Regions from separate parts of the Homo sapiens genome. Here region 2 is linked to region 1. The links come from fine-mapping of genetic effects on gene expression. Tissue or cell type: whole blood. Region 1 holds a variant in brackets; the other region holds the start of a gene. All regions are shown on one strand. Distances are between the middles of the regions.

What was found. PIP is the estimated chance that this variant, and not a neighbour inherited with it, causes the effect.
Region 2: it holds the start of MCTP1, and the variant in region 1 is fine-mapped to the expression of MCTP1 in whole blood (TOPMed, PIP above 0.99).

The regions. Positions count from the first base shown.
Region 1 is chr5:94,913,279-94,915,961 of GRCh38, forward strand. The region is part of intron 8 of MCTP1 (multiple C2 and transmembrane domain containing 1); the gene reads right to left. Among named protein-coding and RNA genes, the nearest start is that of MCTP1-AS1, 64 kb to the right of the region's middle. The variant A/C (reference allele first, on the strand shown) is at 1,073.
Region 2 is chr5:95,283,601-95,286,283 of GRCh38, forward strand. It overlaps MCTP1 (multiple C2 and transmembrane domain containing 1), which reads right to left and starts at 1,494. Exons shown (of 23, transcript NM_024717.7): 1 at 256-1,494. The coding sequence starts at 975. RefSeq lists silencers at 583-702, 783-842.

The DNA of each region.
Region 1 (2,683 bases):
CCAAATAGGCTTATGCCAAAATATGTATACAATAAATGTTAGAAATATCAAAGGCCTCGTTCATACTGTGGTATTTAATTTTTAAACTATTTATGGTGTTTGAAGATCTCTATGTTATAAATATATTTTACAGGTGGTTTTTAATTGCAAGATTAGTTGCAAGTTCTATCCAGATAGTTTAAAAACTTCTTTCTTGCCACATTTGGAGATTATTGAGCTTCAGATTGCTAAAGGACAATTTAAGTTACCACAAAATAGAAAACAAAATCAATAAGCCCATCTAAGATGTCTTGCTTATACCTAAAACTTTCATCACAAATATTTAAAATGTTTAAAGTTACCCATGTGATTTATATTGGCAAGTATGTTTCTGAATTTATTTTACATTTTAGTATCTGAATATTTTCTTTAATGACTTTTATTATTCTTTTTTTTTTCTTTTTAGAAACAGAGTCTTGCTCTGTCACCCAGGCTGGAGTGCAGGGGTATGGTCATAGCTCACTGTAACCTCAAACTCCTGGGCTCAAGTGATCCTCCCAAGTAGCTGGGACAACAGGCATGCACCACTGCACCCAGCTAATTTTTATTTTTTATTTTTGTTTGTTTTGTTTTTAGAGAAAGGGTCTTGCTTGGTTGACCAGGCTGGAGTGCAGTGGCATGATCATAGCTCACTGCAGCTTTGAACTCCTAGCTCCAAGTGATCCTCCTGCCTCAGCCTCCCAAAGTGCTGGGATTACAGGCATAAGCCACCACACCTGGCTTAGACTTTTATTAAAATTTGCAAGTCTACTAAAAATGGCCACATAATCTCTTTAAACTAAAAAGGACATAAAACAAGCCATAGAAAGTAACTAAATGTGAAAACATTTTCAATCTGGATTCAGCATCAAGCAGTACTGTAAAAATAGTTTCTTTCATATTATCAAATGTGTTTTTCCTACTCACAGTCATTTCATAAAGAAATTCAACATTCCTCTCAACCTCAAAGTACACTTCTAAATTACGGATTAGCACTACTTTCTATCTGATCCGTTCTACGTTAATGTTACAAAGTTACAGTCTATTTTACGTA[A/C]CTCTGCCTCCCACTTTGACTTCCTACCTTTTTCCATACCAGAGCAACGCCATAGGTATTTTTATCATCATCATCAAAAGTCATGCATTTCAGAGTGCTTCTATTAGGAAAATGAAAACTACATTCTTCAAAAGATAATACTTCTAATATTTGAACATTTCAATGAAAATCTTTCAAAATCACATTGCATATTTTCCTGCCTTGTTGAACACAGCACATTTTGAACTTTGCCTGGTGGCTCTGCCCTATGAATATCAACGCAGGCTTTTGTCTACATACTCTTCATCCCTGTGAGCTTCAAGAGCAGCATTCAAATGTGTTCTGAAGTGTAATGGAGAATTCATGGAGCACCTGCAAGTTCTGCAGAACTCCATGCCCACTTCAGCTGGAGCCCCTCTGCTCCTGTCTGTTCTCCATATTGGATTTCCACATTGGATTTTGTTGAACAGAGGACTTCTCAGATGAAAGTAATTGTTTAGAATTTGTTGCGCCCAGTTATGCCCAAGGTCTTTGTTTTAGTTCTAAGATTTCATGCAACTTATTATTATATAATCCAGCTGTAGATTTTGGTGTATGACTGGTTTAACCACTTCTGCTGCTGTTGAGACTGCCTCTAACAGCAGACTCTAGAGAATTGGGTTTTAAACTTTGGACTGGAAACTTTTTTAAGGAATATGAGTAGCAAAGAAGGAAGCAAAGAAAACAAATGTTGTGGCAAGCAAGAAGAAGTAATTATTTTAGCAAAGATCAAGGAGCTAATAGCTGCCAACTTATATAGAGCTTTAGAATTTAAAAGTGTACATATCTACATTACAACATTTGGTTCCCACGAAAACCCCATGAGGTCAGAAGGCAAGGCTTCTTAGCCCCATTTTACTGATGGAACTCAGAGTGGTTGTGCTCATAAATGGTAGATATATGACTAGAACCCCAATATTTCTCATCTTTATTCCTGAGCTTCCCCAATACAAGTGTTTAGGGTGGAGATTCTCTCATAGGTTAAAAGGTAAGTATGATTGAAACAAAATGTTTCCAAAGGGTACTCTCCACTTAAGTGGCAAGCACATGGCTAATTCATGAAATTGTCTTTTACTTTTCTATTATATGACCACATGTGTTTATAATATTTCAGCTTGTTGAAGAATATACTTAATGCCATTTTTCTATGTGCTCTCTAGAAGCAGTCAAATAGTAGCTGGGTAAAAGCTAGTTTACACAGTGTCTTCAATTAGCAATGTGAAGTAAGTTTCTTTAACAGTGCCATGTCTAAAATAGTGCCTTCCTTGCTTGCTCCTCCTTTCATTTTGTTTTCTGGTTTTTTTGTTTGTTTGTTTTTAACATGAGAACATGAACTTGGCTTACAGAGTGAGGGAGAGAAAAGCCATTTTCACCCTGTAAGTCAAGTTCATGTTCTCATGTAAAGCTCACAGGAGGAGAAAAGATTCCATTTTCCATTGGGTCCTTTATGCTTTCACAGAAATAAAATGAACATAATAGAGACTTTACCTACTGCCATTAGTTGCTGTGAAATGCTTTTCTATAACCCAGAAGAACATTTCCAAAACAACTTGGGGAGCTAAGTGGGAGGAAGGAGAACATTTCTTCATAAAA
Region 2 (2,683 bases), 370 kb after region 1:
TCATTGACTACTCAGAAAGCTTCTGGTGACAGGTATCATTTCTACCAAAAGTAAAGTCCGGGTGCAAGTCAGAACTCTTTCATCTTTGCTAAACCAGAGCGAGATGTTTTCTTTCGACTGTTTCATCTACTTAGAATTAATAGCATTTCTCCTCCCGCCTCCCGGCCCCCGCCCCCCGCTCCCCGGGTGGTGAACGCCTGAAGAGGGAGGCGTGGTCCCGCGCACCTTGTCTCCGGCCGCGCCACCGGCACTCACCTGGCTGCTGCCGTGCTCCTCGCCCGTCTCCGGGGCCCGAGACTCCGCGGGACTCCGCGCCGGCTCTGCGGGAGGAGGCGGCGGCTCCAGCAGCTGCTCCAGGCAGGCGGTGCCCGGCAGAGAGGAGCTCTTCTGGTGGCACAAGTGCGCCCCGGGGCCCTGACGCCGTGCACCCTCATCTCGGGCGCGGTCCCCCCTCGGGGGAGGCTGGGGCGAGGAGGACAGGGAGGATGAGGCGGAGGAAGAGGAAGGAGCTGAGTCGGGGGAGCGTCCGCCAGGAGGCGTCCCTCCCGCTGCTCCCGAGGCCGCCGCGGGCCCCTTTACGGCGGGGAGCAAATGCTCGCGGATCCGGCGGCGTAGCGTGGACCCCTGCTCGGCTCTGCCGGCGCCGCCGGGCTCCAGGGGCTCCGGCGACGAGCAGCACAGGTTGGGCTGCGAGGAGGAGAAGACTCGGTCCAGCACTTGCTTCCGCTTCTTGAAGCCGCTCCACCTGCTGCCTGCACCACTCCCCCTGGCCGGTGCATTCCCTGTGCCCACCGGGGGTGGCGGGGAGGGCGACGGGGTGTCCGCAGTGCGGCGCTCTGGACCCCCAGCGCGCCCGCCCCCGCCGCCCTTGCTCCTGCCCACCCCCAGCTGCAGGTTCTTCCAGAGCCGGGCCTGGAAGGAGGAGGACGCCGCCGGCGGCTCTGGCTCGCCCGCCGCGGCAGCCCGGGGCTCCATCCTCCACCCCCTGCTCCTCCTCTCCCCTCCTCCTCCTCCTCCTCCTCCTGCTTCTCCTCCCTCTTCGGCTGCACCTCCTCCCGGGTCCCCGCGGCGCTGGCGGTGGCGGCGGCGGCGGCGGCGGGCGCAGCAGCAGAAACCGGGAGTGCCCAGCGACTTCAGGCCAGCTCGGGGGAAAGAAGCGGCCGCCGCCGCCGAGGCTCTCTGGCCTCGGGACTCCGGCGCTGCCTCTTCCTCCCGCACCTGCTGGGGTGGGCTGGAGCCGTAACCGAATCCCGGCCGCGGCGCCTGCAAAGTTTTTCCCTCGAAGCTCCGCGGCTCCAGTCCACTGGCGTCCCCCAGGCCGCGCCCTGGCTCCCTCTTCTCTCTGACCGAGCTCGGGAAGCTGCACGCACCGGGGCGTGCGCGTCCAGCTGCGCCAGGGACCGCACCCGGCGCCCTCTGGGCAGCACCTGTCAGCGGCGGGGGCGGCTGCCTCCAAATTGGGCGCGCACGCGGCTCACACAACAAGGCGCGTCTGGCTGGAGACTCCGGGGACCAGCAGTCCCCCTGGGGCGCCCCGGGACCATCCTCCAGCTCCTAGGTGGGAGGGCCGGTAGGAGCCGGGTGGAGCTAGGTAGGGCCCGAAGCCAGCTTGCTCCCTAGGATCCGGCCACAGTTGCCCAGGCAGCTCGCTGTGCGCTGGCCGCTGGCCGCGCTGGCGATCGTCTGGGTCGGATGAAGCGAGCTGGAGTGGAAACTATGTGCCCTCGATGGGTCTCGTGGGGGCGCCGATCGTCCACACTGAGCGATGAACCCGACGGAGTTCTAAAGCTGAAGACGTCTGCCCCCGCCCCGTTGCGCTCCCTGGGTCCAAGACGAGAGTTTAATTTCTTCTGTCTTGACTTCATCCCCATCCACCCCTCCCTTTTCTTTATTTGCCTCTGCACTGGTCTCTTATGATCAGGTTCTAGCATTTCCGGAGTCTGACGATAAAGCCAGCCCTTAAGTTGCAGGGAGTTTACGGTGGACGAAGATGGGTGATGCGCACTGCCTTTGATCCGATTCGGCACGCACAGAATCTTGTTCTTTTCATTCAAGCGCATTTTTTCTTTGGTTACTTCATTTGCTTGTTGCAAGGCAAACGGAAAAGGCTTTTTAGCTCATTCAGACTTTGCTTCTCCCAAAGCTGCTCAGCCAGGGTCTTCTGATTCTGCTAGGAGAGACTTCTGAAAGGCCAGCAACACAATGCCTCTTTCGTCCTCCTAAATGGGGAAAACGGGAGAGTTCCCTAAGCTGCGGTAGCACACTGATCAGTCTTGTCTAGCTAGCAGTATGCTTTGGAGGTGTTACCAACCTAAGTTTTTTGTTTTGTTTTGTTTTTGTTACCTTTATAACAAATATTTATTAAGCACCTACTATATACCAGGCACTGTGATAGGCTCTGGGGATGCAGCTGTGAACAGGGCATCAGGGTCCCACCCACATGGAGCTTATTGTGAGGGTGAGGGTTGGGAGGTGATGCGAGACAATAAACAGAATTTCTAATATGCAAAAGTCCCATGGAAACAGTTAAGCAGGGTACCACATAACAGAGTGGCTACAGAGGAAGAGCTTCCAGACAAAATGCAGGACACCCAATTAAACTGACTTTCAGAGAAACAATGAATAATATTAGTATATGTATGTCCCAAATATTGCATGGGACATACTTATACTAAAATACTAT